Regions from separate parts of the Homo sapiens genome. Here region 2 is linked to region 1. Evidence: fine-mapped expression QTL. A gene starts in region 1. The other region holds a variant in brackets. All regions are shown on one strand. Distances are between the middles of the regions.

Region 1 (8,332 bases):
TTTTTCTGTATAAAACAATACACATTTATTTGGAAAATACAGGAAAAGTGTAAAATCACACAACTGTGGTGAGGTAAAGAAAAATTTCGTTTAATTCTTCTACTCAGATCTAAGTGTTGATATCTTACTATGAAGGAAACGGATTTTTTTTTTTGAGATGGAGTTTGACTCTTGTCACCCAGGCTGGAGTGCAATGGCACGATCTTGGCTCATTGCAACCTCTGCCTCCCAGGTTCAAGCGATTCTCCTGCCTCAGCCTCCCAAGTAGCTAGGATTACAGGCATTCAACACCATACCCAGCTAATTTTTGTATTTTTAGTAGAGATGGGATTTCACCATGTTGGCCAGGCTGGTCTGGAACTCCTGACCTCAGGCGATCCACATGCCTTGGCCTCCCAGAATACTGGAATTATAGGTGTGAGCCACCGTGCCTGCCCAGGAAACGGTTTTTTGATAGGAGGGACTGGTATGTTTATCTTAAACAAATGCATATAATTCTGATATAAAACCCCGATGTAACATTTTACCCTTCAAGAAAGCCAAATCATTCATAGACAGTGTGGTGTAGGTTTAAGGGCAATCAAGAGTTGTTGAGCTTGATCTATGTGAAGCTCATAGGGTGAGTTGTTGAGTTCGATCTATGTGGAATGGGGAGAGTAGGGGCTGGTGAGGGCTCTGTAGTGGACCTGCCCTCCTTGACTTACTAATTGAAAGCAACTTCTGCAGCTGTTATTGTTGTTGAGGTTGTATTCCACCAGCAGGTTGGAGACACAGGCAAAATATAACTAGATTTCAGCCACATGTTTGGACATGGTGCCAGAAGACTAGTTCATGCTGATTCCTGCATTTCTCCCTGTTATTTGAGGACAGGGGCCATCCTCTATTCAACTCTGTATCTCCAGCAAAGCACTGAACATAGCAGATGCTCAATTAACATATGTTGAAGTAAACTAAAGGCCTGGGTTCAAATTCCTACCCTATCATGTATTAGCTAGATGCCCCCATCCACTTCTTTGGCTTCAACCCCGTCTTTGATCTAGAGACTTTCAAATCTCAATCATTGACCTTGTCTTTCCAAAACGCCAGACCCAACTAACTCCTTGCCTCCTGGACTTTTCTACCTTGATGTTCCATAAGTAGCTCAAAATCAGTATGTCCCCCCTGAACTCATCACTATCTCTCCTCAAACTCCTACTCTTCCTCCTGTGAACCCTAGCTTCGTTAATGGTGTCACCATCTCTCTGGGTACCCAAGCAAGAGACTAAGTGGGTCTCTCTGCTCTTTTTCATTTATTTACTCATAAGATCCTTCCTGCTGACTCTGACTCAAAAATGTTGAAACCTCATCTCCATTCCCACAGCTGCTTCTGTTCAGACCCCCATCATATGTTATCTGGATTATTACATCAATCTCCTAACTGGTTTCTCTGCCTCTGATCTTCCTGTTTCAAAACATCTTCTTTGGTCATAACCAAAGGTGTCTATCTGAACTGAGGCATAATTATATCACTTCCTTTCTTTAAAACATCCCAAGGCTCCTCATTGTCTTAAGAATCCAAATTCCTGACAACTCAGAGGGTCTGTCACAATCTGGCTCCAACAGCCCTTTCTGGTCTCATCTCATATAAAACTGACCCCTCTTATCCCAAATAGGATGGTCTGCCCTAGCTGTTTAAAAATTTCCCCCCTCCCCCAGATGGAACCATAGCATCTCTCTTTGCATAGAATGGTACAGAATCTTCTCTCCCATCTCCTTATTGCTGCTGCTCCTTCCCCTGGGAGCCTCCCCTGTGTATTGGAAGTCTAGCCATGTGTCACCTCCTTTGAGCACCCTTCTTGGGGCAGAACCACTTATTTCTCATAGTGCTTAGTCCATACATCTATGGTAGCACTTATTGGATCCTTGTGTGTGTGTGTGTGTGACCTCAGAGCTTAAGATGGTCCCTGGTGCATAGTGATGACTCTGTCAATGTTTGGGACAAGAGTGAAGTTCTAAATAGGGCACAATGGATTTAACTGCTGGCACCAAATCCCTCCCCTGTGAAAACAGCCCCAGCCTCTGAGTCCTGTCTACAGTCTCAGCCCACCCCAGACCCATTCTCTTTGCAGGGATCCTCAAACCTCCCTTTGCAAGAAGATCTTCTGGATGCTTTTTTCACAGGTAGAGCATCCTTCCTGCGCCACAAAAGGTTGAGTGGGTAGTGATCAATTCATGCTCAGTGAATTAGATTTGTTCAGAGAGGCCCAGAGATGGGGTAATGATCCCATGGGTAAAAGATCCATGTCTGGAGAAAGGATAGGTGTGCACCTAGAAGAAGAGAAGAGAGTGGGGCTCATTTATATTCTGAGATTTAAATGAGATGTGGCGGGAGGACTCTTCATCCCATCTGATTAAACCTACACAAGAGTTCATGTGGGGGCACACAAAGACTAACTAAGGATATTCTCTACGTTCTACTCAACTTTTGGGATGTAGCTTAGAATCCTAAAACACAGTACTACAGAAAGCCTCGAAACTAGGCTAGATTCTCCTCCCATCCCATCCAGGCTTCTCCGCAGCAGAAATAGGTGTTTAATTAAATGGAATAATATAGTTCTCCTTTCATACCTCAGGAGATCAATGAGCCCATAGCTAGCACTCACATATTTATAGACTGAAGAAATGAACATATTCTGGGGCTCAAGGAGATCACCACCTACTGGGGAGGCAGGGGAGAAGGGAGGATGCTAGGACCCTGCTATCCCCACTACACGGCACATTGCAGTCTAGGGTTCACCGTGCAGTAGAAAGGAGAAGCAAAGCGATGAAACCCTCGTGGGATTCGTGAAGGCTTTATGGAAAAGCGATGTGATGATCAGTGGGATTTCTAGGGGGAAGGGATCCAGGGCCAGCAACCAGCTGAAGGAAAGGCTGAAAGGAGGGAAATGCAGGGTACGATCTGGATGGAGTTAAAATGGCAGAAAACTGAGGCTGAGTGAGAGGTCTGGTACTGAGGTGGGGATCGGAGTTCCAGCACTGGCCTTTGACAGCCTCTGGGTCCCAGGTGGAATGGGTAGGGCCAGAGCCCTTGCCTTCTTCTCCAATCAACACCAGGGGTGTGGTGTCTTAGGCAAGGATGGGTGCTGTGCGCCCTGCCGCCCACCATAGGCAGGGCCTGGGAACCCGGGGAGGACTCTCCCCACCTCCAGCCTCCGGCAGTGTCCGCCAGGCAGGGCGGGGGCCAGCGCTGGTGTTGAGTAGTGGACCCCAGGGGGATGACTAAGCCTTGCCTGCGAGCAGACTCGAGCATGCCAAGTTATGAGACGATGATAACTCTGCCCCGAGCCTCTGGGGTCGTGGCCGTGGGCCGGCAGGGGCGAGGCGGGCGTCCAGAGGGCGGATAAAAGGGGCCGCGCTGCGCCGGGGCCGCTTTCTCCGCGCGGTGCCTGCAGGGCTCCCAGCGAGTGGCAGCTTGGGAGGGGCCGCCCGGGCGGTCAGACTGGCACCTGAGCGGCCACCGCGTCCCGGCCAGGCGGGCAGACCGACCCCCTCCTCACCTCGCGCGCGGCTGACGCAGGCAGGGCGCCCGGCCCCTCCTGGGGACCATCAGGTGCCGGCTGGGGGCTGTAGGCACCGGACGGAAGCAGGCGGTGTGAGGACCGACGACGCGGGCATGGCGGGGGCGGCCTGCGAGCCGGTGGCCAGGCCGAGCCTGACCTCCATCTCGTCTGGGGAGCTTCGCAGCCTGTGGACCTGCGACTGCGAGCTGGCCCTGCTGCCGCTGGCTCAGCTGCTGCGCCTGCAGCCCGGTGCCTTCCAGCTGAGCGGCGACCAGCTCGTGGTGGCCAGGCCCGGGGAGCCGGCGGCGGCGCGGGGGGGCTTCAACGTCTTCGGTGACGGCCTCGTGCGCCTCGACGGGCAGCTCTACCGCCTCAGCAGCTACATCAAGAGGTGGGTGGCCTCGCCGTGCGCCCTGGCCCGTCGCCTGGTACCCGCAGACGCCTCCACCCGGCTGCGGTCTCTGGGAGCCTGGGCTGTCCTCGCTGCCTGCGACACCGCGTGGCCCCTTGCTCCGTGCGCTTCTAGACTTTCCTTCTGCTTCTATCACCCGGAGCCTGCACGCTCGCCCTGGTTCTTCTGCCTCTTGCACTGACATTTTGCAGCTGCTGCTTGAAGCCGCCCAGAAGGGCATCAGGACTGGGGGCGAGGGGGAGGGCAGGGGCCCCCCAGCCAGAGCTCATGAGTGGCAGATGCTTCTCCCATTCTGGCTCCTTAACTGGGTCAGATGAGCTCAAATTGGGAGCACACCCTTTAGGGGCTGTCTGCAGCTCTGCAAGACTCACATCCTGGCTTTGGAGCATGGGTGGCGGTGAGGAGCAGGGGGCATGCACCATTCTGAGCACTGCCAGCCCTCTCCAGTGAGGAGACCGAGTGGAGAAGCATGCAAAAGCTCAAAGTTTCCCATCTCTGGCCTCACTTCGTGTTTCAAAAGTAAACAAATAAACCGCAGCTGAGAAGGGAACAAAGCCCCTGGAAGTCCAGCCCGGGGCCATGTGGGCTGTGGAAGGCACAGATAAGTTCTGGGGAAATAAGTGCGAAACCTGAGGGCCTTAATGGGAAGGAGGCCCCCAGGATGCTTGACTGTTGTGGCCAGAGTGCCCCCAAGCTCTTCTTGGCAGACCGGCAGGATGTGGCCCAGCCATCTGAAGCAGGCTTTGGTGCCACAGGGTAAAGGAGGGCACTTCAGGCCTGATTCCACATGGCCTCAGGCCTCCAGAGTTCACTCTTGGCAAGGGCCTGGAGTGCAAAGACCTGTTATATTTGTGCTGAGAGAGCCAAGTGCCTGAAGAGGCAAGCATGGTCTAGAGTTTGACTCAGAAATGAATAAGATAGCCAGCTTTTGAGACACAGCGCCTTTGCTACTGGGAAAGACAGCGTGCTGTGGCACCCTGTGGGTAGGAGGGAGCCAAGAGAGGGAAGCAAACAAAATGAGATATTGAACGTGCAGTCTTCAAAACTCTTGGAGAAAAAACCTTGCTTTTCCAAAGATAGTGAGGGCTCTGAATGCCTGAAGAACCATTCCCCAGCAAGAATTTCTCCCTTTCTTAGTGAAATGAAAATTCCAATTCCAAACCATAAGCGGAGGACTGTGGGAGGAACTGAGTCAGATGTGTGCAGATTTAAAAAGAAGATACCCATTGTATTTGAGAGCAGGGTATGAAAAATAAAAATGTCCAGAATGAACGAAGCCGTAAGTTAGGGTTTTGACAGAACCAGTTCTCCTAATTGTAGCAAACAGTGCTGCAGAATCTGAAATGATTTTGAAGTCTGTCATCTAACTTTTGCTTTGAACACCTCCTACACAAAAGAAAATTAAACAACAGTGATTCCCCTGACAGCTTTGAATCTAGAATAAACAACTGGGCCACAGTGACCAGGTAACACAGACCAGGGTGCAAATACAAAACAACAAATAATAGGCTATCATTGTATAAGCAATACTGTGAGGGCTTCTTTTGTACCTGGGAAATAGCAAGGAGCCTCTGAAAATAATTTGGGTGATGGAAGGAGCTATCTATTGTCCTCAGGCAGGGAAGGAGGCTTTTATAACTGAGTGTGCAGTCCTGAAGGATGGCCAGGAGGGAATGTGGTCTAAATGGAGACAGCCTTCCAGGCAGAGGGGGAGGACTGGACTGTGGGCAGCAGTGAGAGGTTCTGCCCTCGGGAATCAGGAGGTGGGAGGTATGCCGAAGCCAGAACTCAGATATCTAAAGCTTCGTTCCTCTGAGCTGCCAAATTTGCCAGTTGTTTTTGGCTTTAGAGATAGCATAAAACCTCCCTCCCTCCCCTCCCTCCCTCCCCACTTCCTTCCCTCTCTCCCTCCCTCCCTCCCTTCCTTCCTTCCTTCTTTTTGAAAAATAAGCTCTGGCCAGTTTTATTAAAGATTTGCATGATTTATTTTCACCAGTCTGTTCTGGCATGCTTCCAAAGATCTCAGGGCTGGGTGCAGTGCCTCATGCCTGTAATCCCAGCACTTTGGGAGGCTGAGGTGGGCGGATTGCTTGAGTCCAGGACTTCGAGGCCAGCTTGGGCAACATAGTGAGACCTCCTGTCTACAAAAATTAGCTGGGCATAGTGACATGCACCTGTGGTCCCAGCTGCTCAGGAGGCCGAGGTGGGAGGTGGATGGCTTGAATCTTGGAGGTGGAGCTTGCAGTGAGCCGAGATGGTGCCACTGCACTCCAGCCTAGGCAACACAGTGAGACCCTGTCTCAAAAAAAAAAAAAAAAAAAAAAAATCTCAGCATTCCCTGGATCAGTGACACCAGGGTGCACTTGCTATGGTATTTTCCACATGCTGTGCCCAATTTAATGTTATTACTGCTGGAGTGGTAGATGGCAGTTTTGAGAGTATGCACCTTAGTTCTGTATTTCAGATTTCCTCGAGGCCAGGCAGTTGGTGGGGATGACCGGTTTCACTTTGCCTTGTCTATCATCTTCAGAGCCGGATTGCCCCAGCTTGTATTTTTGACCCTTAATGGGTTGGAGCCTAGAGTGGATGGACTCCAGTGACTTTTCGTCTTCTTTGCGGCCACCATATTCTGGCCTTGGATGTGGGATGGCCTCTAACCAAAAGCAGCCACCAAGATGGCCAGGGATCCCAAAAGGCAAAATGGTTCTTAATCATTTTGGACCATAGAACTTTTGAGAATTCTACGTAGATTCCCCAGAAATGTAAATATATACCCAATTTTTGCTGACCATCCAGGATGTTCATGAGATACTTGGACCCAGGTTAAGAATCCTTGCTCTATTAATTAATTAGTTCTTTTTAACTCAACAAATATTTTTGGCATATGGGATAAGCCCCTGGTGTAATTAGAATTTCTTTCTGGGACCTCATAAGTATGTACTGTGGCTTTCATGAGGCCCTTTTCCAAGGAACCCCGAAAGGCTAAGAGCCACCGACCTTGACTTTCAGGTTATTCACTCGCTAAGAGAGCAACAGGATGATTTTAGCAGCCCTACTTAGGTTCATTTTCTAATACTTTAACATTTTTTCTAAGTACATACCTACTAAGTAACCTAAAGAAATCCAGCATAGTGGGAAGGTTTAGTGATGACCACCAGCTCTAAAGCTCCTTCAAAAACCTACTTTAAAAATATTTGTCCTATTTTGTAGGATTTATGGCAAGATCTTTATTTTTATTATTTTCTTTCAAGATCAGGATTTTCGCCCATGTTGTAAACACAATGTGCTCAGGACACGAGATGTGGGTAATGGTCATTCAGGGAGCCATTCATTCAATACTTAAAAGTCAAAATTACCATTAACTACGACACACACACAAACACACACACACACACACACACACATGTTTTTTCCTATAAAGCAGCCTCTTGGTGAAATATAATGGCAAACGTTTGGCAAAGAAGACCTGGAGTCCCTTCTTTTTGGTGCTCCCCTAGCATGAAAGAGGCTGCCTGGAGAATAAAAATAAATACAATAGAAATGGTGGCTACTAACATTTACTCGAATGGTGTAAAGTATTTCACAGCTACTATCTCATAAAAGTTTACAAAGTTTGCATTACTGTTGTTTCTCCTTTTTACAGATGTAAGCATTAGGACTCAGAGCTTAAGTAATTTACCTAGGTAAGATGCTGCTAAGTGGGAGAACCAGGAGAACCTATGCTTTCAGCAAATTACTTTGAACCTGAAATAATCTTGCTTTCTCACTCATTTCCTGAATCTACAAATAAATAACTGGAATTATGTCAGCTAGTGCACATTTTGTACAATCAGCCTACAAAAGTAAGTAAGTGCAGTGATTTTAAGGAAGCCACTAAAAGCAGAGCTGTGACCTGCTCCTGGATGGGTGACAGTCACACCTACTCAGGGCGGAGAATGCAGGTGAGGTGAAGCGGCACTCATAGGGGTAAAATGAGGACAGTAGGGCTGGAACACACTTGGAAGTTTACTGGGGGAAGCCTCACCTCCATCCTGCAGTGGGAAGTGCTGGGCTCTGTCTGCTGGCCCAGGCCCAGTTCTCAGAAGAGATTCCAACTTGAGGCTGGGAGGTTGGAAGATGTGGTCTTAGATGTAGCAACCTGCTTAGGACAGCAGCCCCTTAGCAGGACACACAGTGATGTTGGTGAAATAATAACCATCCATGCATTGAGCTGTGAGATTTTTAGGAGAGTCAGTCTAGAGGAAGGGCTCTGCTCTTTGCGAGCTGAATGACCTTGGGAAATTTACTTATTGTCCATGGGACTCCATTTCCTCAACTATAAAGTGGGAATAGTAATAATACCATTAAGCAGCACCAGAAGCCAAGAGCTTTACACACATTA
Region 2 (8,332 bases), 26 kb before region 1:
GTAGATGATTTTATTTCCATCATGTGGCATTTCATTGACACCTAATACTGACTTCCAAGTGTCCGTTTAGACGATATGCATACAAAGGAAATGACATGCTTTTTCTTCCTTTAAAAATATAGCTGATGTGATGCTCCTAATAGAGAGTAAATGAATATAATCAAGTTTTCCCTACTTTGGAGTACAAATTTTAAGCTTTTATATTAAAACCTATTTATGCCTAGTGTTCCATTATTGGAACACTAAGCATGTGGGAGTTATTTATGTCTTACTGCTCAAGGTCATCACCAGGGTCTGATTTTTCACACTCAAAAAATTGCAACCTCAGGCATAAATGGGTTAAAATGTACTATGACGTATCTCCAACTTCATCCTGGAATGGTTTTATCTGACAGGTTTAATAGTGGCAATGAGAATAAGTCTGGCTGGGCGCGGTGGCTCACGCCTGTAATCCCAGCACTTTGGGAGGCCGAGGCGGGTGGATCACGAGGTCAGGAGATGGAGACCATCCTGGCTAACACGGTGAAACCCCGTCTCTACTAAAAATACAAAAAATTAGCCGGGTATAGTGGTGGGCACCTGTAGTCCCAGCTACTCGGGAGGCTGAGGCAGGAGAATGGCGTGAGCCCGGGAGGTGGAGCTTGCAGTGAGCAGAGATTGTGCCACTGCCCTCCAGCCTGGGCGACAGAGTGAGACTCTGTCTCAAAAAAAAAAAAAAAAAAAAGAAGGATAAGTCTGACTTTGCCAGCAGGAAATTTTAAAAACAACCTCTCCCTGTGTATGTAACTCACATGGTATATACCTTATAATTCATGTGGCTGGCCATATTTTATTTATGAAATATTTGGAATCTGGAATCCAAAATCAGGGAAGGTGCAGATTCTTTGTTCCCTATTCATAGTGGAAATTAGTTCAAGTTGCTTTATTTTTAGCATTGCCATTCCACATTATTTTAAAGATAAGACTTTTGGGGTGACACTTTATTATTATTTTTATGTGTTTATTCATTTTTCCAATAATCAAGAAACAGAAAAATCAGAAGAAAGCCAGAGAAAAAGTGAGTTTCCTGTCTGCAGTGCTCAAAGCATACCACACACATTAGGAAATGACAGAAATGCACAAGCTAGACATCCAGCCAATCAAAACACATTGCCCAGAACGGTCAAGTTTAAATGGGATCATGCATTCCAAGTCTTGAAGTTTAAGACACATTAACATTAAGCCTTTCAACTTCACATAGTAATACAATCCAGCAACAACACAGCATCAATCAACAAAATCAGACTAAAAGAAAGAGCTTGTGCTTCCCCCAAGGGAGCCCTGTAGACAGATTGCACCTCAAAGTTGAAAGGACAGTTAAGCCTTCTCCTTGTTGCTTTCTCTGTTCTGGGACCACTTTGCAGTTTTCCTTCTTTCTGAATATGTTTTATCTCAGGTACAAATAGGTTGGCTCTTCTGCAAAAGACTAGCCAACTAGTCTACCACAGAGTTAGTTAAGTCTCATTATTTCGAATAAATTTGTGTTTTATTTTTAAACTCATTGACAACTCTATGTGTTTTTAATTAACTTCTTTGACTTCAGTTGTTTGAAATCCAAAAGTGGGCTTGGATAAAAATTAGCTTTATCAGTTTATGCCAGTGTGTGTTTAACCAGGTTTTTTCTTTACTATACATTAACTCCAGATAGATGGGGACTATTTGTTCATCAAAGGCTGGCTTTTCCTGCATATCTCTGTGGCAGACACTAGTTGGGTTACCTTGTGCAAAACGGCTCACACCAAATAGGGTTGTGGGAAGAACTGACACTTCCAAAACCAACTATGGTTGCAATTGTAAACAAGTGTCAAAGAGCCCGCATTCTTTATAAAGCTTAGCTAGGCATTGAGATGTAGGCTTTTAAAATATGACTTATTTGTGGGTTTGTTTTGGTTTTTTGTTTGTTGGTTTTGAGACAGGTTCTCACTCTGTTGCCTGGGCTGGAGTGCAGTGGCACTATCACGGCTCACTCTAGCCTCAACCTGTTGGGCTGAAGTAATCCTCCCACTTCAGTCTCCTGAGTAGCTAGGACTACAGTTGTGTGCCACCACACCCAGCTAATTATGTTTTGTTTTTTGTTTTTGTAGAGATGGGGTTTCTCCATGTTGCCCAGACTGTTCTGGAATTCCTGGGCGCAGGTGCTCCTCCTGCCTCAGCCTCCCAAAGTGTTGGGATTACAGGTGTCAGCCACCATGCCTGGCCACAATATGACTTCTTAAGCACCGTTAATACACCTAAGTGTTGGGCCCTATCTTTCAATTTGCCAGATACAGGGTGGTCATATAATTTATTGTCCATGCAAGGATCTTGAGAATGGTTAGGGTTGCTAACCCGATGGGTTGCCAGGACATCTGGTGTAAACCTGGACATCCATATATATGGGACTCTTCTGCCCCATGTGCCACTACCAAGTGTTTTTGAAGGTGTGTTGAAAATATTGCTAAATTTCACCTGCTAATTGTTCTGATGAATCTATGAATTTTTTTTCATCCTGGAATCATCCATGACTTCCTACTTGATCCATCAGATATCAGTATCTCACTATTTCTGGACCCCAGGACACTTTTCCACCACGAAGTTCTTTTCCTGCTTACAGTGCTACTGTCTGTTTCCCATCTCTGTTCGTGGAGATCCTAGTGATTCTTTGGGACCTAACTCAGCAGGATCTCTTCCAACACTTTAGCTTCCACAGGGCTGTATTTGTATCCTCCTTAGGGCACTCACCTCTTTCGGTTTTGTTATATTTTTATGTGTTGTATCATTTTTCATTACTTAACTGAAAGAAGGAACCAACCACAAAGCTGCACCTCTACATTACACATTGAATGTGAGCCCCTTGTTTTAGCTACTTCTTACGTGTTTGGTGAATTGTTTTTAAAAGTGTGGTAGGAAATAAACATCCAAGAAGGTAGAAAGCCTTGTTGTATTTGGCAAGGAACAGGCCGATGCTACTGCTGGATTTGAATGCCAGCTTCTCCAATTAAGAGCTGTGCAATCTTGTGCAAGTCACTTAACCTCTTGGCGGCCTGTAAAATGGGGATGATAATAGTACCTACCTCCTAAGATACTGAGTATTTAATGTTGCCAGGCACTGTCCTCACAGAACAGTGCTTGGCAAACAGTGCCTGGCAAGACTAAATACTCAATATCTCAGCTATTTTTATTGTTCAGACTTCATTTCCCTATTTTTTGAGGTTTTATTCACATTTTTGAATTGTATTGCAAATAAAAGAAAACCAAGAGCTATCGGCATGTGTAATGGAGGGAGGCCTAATGGCCACCTCCGTCAGGCACACCAGCAATATCCACTGAGAACTAATGCCTTGGTGACCCAAAGGTCACTTGATGGGACAGAATAAAATGTCCTCTTGACTTGAAGAGCCAACCAGGCCAACCCCAACCTCTCAACTTGAAATCAGAGAGTTGAGGTGCTGGTTCTCTGCACATCTGTAGAATAGGGACCATAAGAGTACCTACCTCATGGGCTTACAGTAAAGATGTAATGAGATCATCTATGTAAAGCACTGATCATAGTTTCTAGTACCTGCTCTACATTTGCTGTTGTTCACAGCATCTGTCCTGGAACATGAGTTGATTGTTGAGAGAGGTGTGGTGGGTGTTCTGGGGAAGATATCCTCATATTTCCTCCAGCCATCAGGAACCTCATGGCTAGCTCCATCAGGAGAAGCTCAGCAAGAGAGTGAGAATGCAAGCCTCTCGTTTTTTTATTAGAAATGGTGATTAGGAGACTGCCTTCCCCTCTCTGCGAGCATCCAGTGCAGGAGGGCCAATATCTACAGCTGCAAGGATGATCAGCTTGATGCTGAGGCAAGAGTTATGATTAGCAACAGAAGTGGCAAATTAAGTTCACTGACTAGCAGGCTGGGAAGAGCCAAGAAATCTGTATTAATCACCAAGGACAGAACATGAGCTCTTTGAGACTCTGCAGGGAGAAAAGAGGCTGAAAGTACCCACAGTACTTCTGGAAGGGGGCTCAGAACCAGTGAGTTTTCATTAGCATGGCTATTGCATCCTACAACCCTGGAGTCACTCACCCAGACTATAGTGACCTAAAGAACTCAGGGTTACACACAGCACAGAGCCACTGTCCCAGGGAAAGAAGTTTCTTTGCTTCCAGGCGCCTCTGTACCTAACTGTTACTGTTCTTTTCCCAGGGTCCCCAAAGAAGAGAATTCCACCAACTTTTCTTGGCATTCTCTGCCAATAATTAGCAATTTTTTCTTTATGTTTATCCTTATTAATGCCTATTCCTGTTCAGCTGTGCTCATGGAAAGATAGCCAGTGTGTTTTGCACTTTCCCAGGCAAGCACATCTCAGAGTCCAAATGGCACAGTTGCCTTCAGTTAATTTTCACTTAGATCTTAACCTTCTGAGTTTATTTCCACTTGAACTCTGGGTATTAAAGTAGAAATAATGCTTTGTGACCTTTAAGCGGGACACCAGCTGCTTCTCCACCCTTTCCCCTGTGGTTTAGTGACCCACACAGTCCAGTTCTGCAATAGCCTTGTTTCTGGAGTTCTAACCTCCTTCCCAGCAGGGAATGACTAATGCTTAAAGCCACGCATTACACGAAGGTTTACCAGGCAGAGCAAATAAATGGTCATCGGAGACATGCTTTCAAACAGAGATCTCTGTTCTTGGCATGAAGGTTAAGGTTAGTGAAAAAAAGTCCCACCTCTGCCCCTTTCTGTTCAGTTCCACCCCTTTATCTTCCCAAGGACATGAT[G/A]AGAAAGATTTTAAAAGTGATCACAGTGGTTTATCTTCATGACATGGGCAGATTTCCATGAGTCCTGTGATTCAGTGACACTCTGAGGAACCCATGACTGTGGGGTGGGCTTGGAACAAACTCACTGTTGGCAGAAGCTGTCCACTTCCCCCATTTTTTGCTCTGGCAAAAATAGATTTCAATGGCAGCTTAGGAAGGGGCCGCAGTGGGGAAGAGGTTGTGGTAAGAGAACATTCTTTCCCATTCTCCAAATCTTCCAAACCAAGCTTTGCTCCATGGGACCACTTCACCCAGAAGTCTGGGCTGGAGCTCAGGCTCTGACACTGTCATGGCTCCCAGCTTGATGGATGGGAGGAGGCAGGGAGCTGGGTTTCCAGCCAGGAACTAAGGGAACTCTACGCTCCTACAGTCCCTTTACTTACTGGGATGGTGTTCACCGCCTCTGCCCACTGAGCCTGCCAAAACAATCTGTCACAGCCAAGCCCAATCACTCCCCATTCCCTGCTCCAAAAAAGAAGAAACCTTGCTGCAGCTTCATAGACATTTGGTCAATCTGCAATAATAAAAAATAGAGGTAGTGGGGCATGGGGAGAGGGAAAGAAGAGAGGCTGGGGGCTGGTGATGGGACAAGTTGAGTTTGGAGCTGCAGAGTGGGAAACTATGGGATGGGCTGGGAATACACAGGGGAGGATGCCTCCTTAAAGTAGGCTTCGGACTATGTATATGGATCCCCTTTGGGCTTTGGGATAATTAGTGAAAGATCAGAGTTATCTTGAAATTCCTTTTGTTTACAAGACTGCATGTTTGGCTGCTCTATGGGGGTCCTGGCTGTGTAAAGGTCACACGTGTAAGTGGATTATGGGCTCATTCATCTCCACAGGGCAAGCTGGAGAAGTTTTTCTTGACTCACTGGAAACAGAAGTAAAAGGCTGAGGAAGGCATTGCGGGGTGGTTGTATCACACAGGCGATGGTGAAAAGTGGAGGTGATGTGGTAGGGAGGAAGACATCTGTGTTTGCTATTGACTTTCTATTTCTTCTGCCAGGGAGCCTGGCATCCGGGTCTCCTGTTGCCCAGCAGTGGAGCAGTCACTTCATTTCACTGTGTCTCACAGTTGTCTCTGCTGTTGGCAACTGGATGTGGGAGGGAACAGTGAAGAGACTACTAAAGTTTAATGTCCTTTTTATGACCAACTTTTGTTGCTGGCACCTTCCTCTTGGAAAAAATACACTGATTTATGACTGAACCATCCCTACACACGGAAATCAAATCATTCTTTCTGTCTCTTAGCTTATTTTTGTTTAGAGGAGCGGATGGCTTCCATAGGCTGTTCAGAAAATGGCTGGGACAAATCGGAGTAAAAAAACTTAAAAGTTTTTATTTCTGTCTCTTTCTCCCCACAGAGGAGTTTGAAATTCTTGCTTCAGGCCATATGGAGTGGATATTCCTTCCAGAAGGAAATTACAGACCACTCTCTGTTTCTACTCAACTGCTTTTCACTCCGTAAGTGGACTCTTTGAAGCAGCCTTTTATTTACCTCAGATTCTGACATGAATAATTGTTTAATTGCCTTTCAGCCTACACAAGATAAGGAACCATGTCTCAAAAATTGTATAATTCTCTTAACTAAACAATAGCCAAGCCATCCGGAGTAGTTTTCAAAGGAAAAAAGAATTCCTCACATATGTTAAGCATTTTATTCTTTTCAAAATGCATTGCTCTGTATTATTTCGCTAAATTGGATAACGTATACGAAAGCACTGTGTAAATTACATCACATAACAAAAAAGTGAAATGTTATAACAATGATCGATTTGATTTTCCATGTGGGAAACTGAGGCTTTACGGGAGTAAGTTACAATCCCAAATCACAGCAGTTAAACGGAGCCCAGACAGTGGTCTGTCTTCTACTTCCGGATGTGCTCTCTCCTCTGCAGAGGATGCTTCACCTCTTGGGGCCTTCCCCAGCAGAGGCCCAGGATCACCTGCAAAAGGCTTCCCCAAGGGTGGGGCCAGAAGCAGGGCTGCAGATATGTGTCCTGAACCTCCCATGGACCCTGCTGGCTCCCTTCAAAGGCTTCGGGCATAGCGACTTGCCTTTCCGTCTTGTTCAGTCGTCACCAGTCAGCCGTCTGCAGACTTCTCTCCCTCACGTTGTGGCAGAGGAGTTGTACATTCTCTAGATTTTAAAAATATATAAGTTACTTTTTCTTTAAAATAAAAATTGTCTCTGAAATAAGCTCCCAATACATTTGCGTATTTTTAAAACGTGTTAGCAAATTCTCATAATAGGATTTGCGTTTGTTAGAAGAGGACTGGGGCAGAAATCACAGAGGAATGAAGCACCTGCCACTCCCTCACCCCTCAGTGGGTGCAGCCCACCCAGGGAGGCAGCAGGATACAAGGTGGAGGAGTACCCCGATACCCAAGAACCCCATGCAAAGGATAGAGCAGCCTGAGAGCAGGGGCAGGATACCAGAGGGAAGGGCTCAGGAGGGTTTCAAATGTATCAAAGGACACAATCAACAGAGTGAAGGGGCAACCCAAGGAGAATCAAAGAAAATATTTGCAAATCATATATCTGATAAGGGATTGATATCCAGAATATATAAAGAACTCCTGGCCAAGCACAGTGGCTCATGCTTGTAATTCCAACACTTTGGGAGGCAGAGATGGGAGGATTGCTTGAAGCAAGGAGTTCAAGACCAGCCTGGGAAACAAAGTAGGACTCCATCTCTACAAAAAGAAAAAAAATAATTAGCTGGATGTGGTAGTGCACACCTGTAGTCCCCACTACTTGGGAGGCTGAGGTCCGGATTGCTTGAGACCAGGAGCCCGGAGGCTGCGGTGAGCTCTGATCTCACCACTGTACTCCAGCTGAGCTGATACAGTGAGACCCCGTCTCTAAAAAAAAAAAATTAAATATTTAAAAATAAGAACTCCTGCAACTCAACAACAACAAAGTCAGTCCAAATAAAAAATGGGCAAAGGACTTGAATAGACATTTGTCCAAAGATAATATGTATACAAATGGTCAATAAGCATATGAAAAGATGCTCAGCATCACTAATCAATCATTAGGAAAATGCAAATCAAAATCACAATGAGATACCACTTCACACTCATTAGGAAGGCTACTAATGAAAAAAAAAAATAGAAAATAACAAGTGTTGGATATTGAGAAACTGGAAGCCGGATGCATTGGGAATGGGCAGGAATGTAAAATGGTGCAGCCACTATGGAAAACAATATGGTGGTGCCTCAACAAATTAAACATAGAATTACCATATGTTTCAGCAATTCCAAAGAAACATCATTCTCTGGGGTAAACACCTGAGGTTCGCCATCTCATGCCAAGGATATCGAGTATGCAGACACACAGGAAGTGGGTTTAGGAGCAGAGGTTTAATAGGCAAAAGAAAGAGAAAAGAAAACAGCTCTCTCTTCTGCGAGAGAGAGAAGGGCACCTGAGTGGGAGTTCCGGCTGGTCGTGGAGTGCACAGGGTTTTATAGAAAGGCTTGAGGAGGCGGTGTCTGATTTACATAGGGC

Which allele goes with the higher level. Alleles are on the strand shown, and positions count from the first base shown. SD is a standard deviation of normalised expression in the study named.
With allele A in place of G in region 2, the expression in adrenal gland of the gene that starts at base 3,408 in region 1 is higher (moderate effect, 0.59 SD a copy in GTEx).

Evidence for each region.
Region 2: its variant is fine-mapped to the expression of MEDAG in adrenal gland (GTEx, PIP above 0.99).

The regions. Positions count from the first base shown.
Region 1 is chr13:30,902,864-30,911,195 of GRCh38, forward strand. It overlaps MEDAG (mesenteric estrogen dependent adipogenesis), which reads left to right and starts at 3,408. Exons shown (of 5, transcript NM_032849.4): 1 at 3,408-3,930. The coding sequence starts at 3,653. All of the region lies in intron 2 of TEX26-AS1 (TEX26 antisense RNA 1), which reads right to left. RefSeq lists an enhancer at 4,009-4,510.
Region 2 is chr13:30,876,375-30,884,706 of GRCh38, forward strand. It overlaps LINC00545 (long intergenic non-protein coding RNA 545), which reads left to right and starts at 6,188. Exons shown (of 2, transcript NR_103813.1): 1 at 6,188-6,285; 2 at 6,720-7,021. It overlaps TEX26-AS1 (TEX26 antisense RNA 1), which reads right to left. Exons shown (of 4, transcript NR_038287.1): 3 at 7,564-7,686; 4 at 6,461-6,961. The variant G/A (reference allele first, on the strand shown) is at 4,784.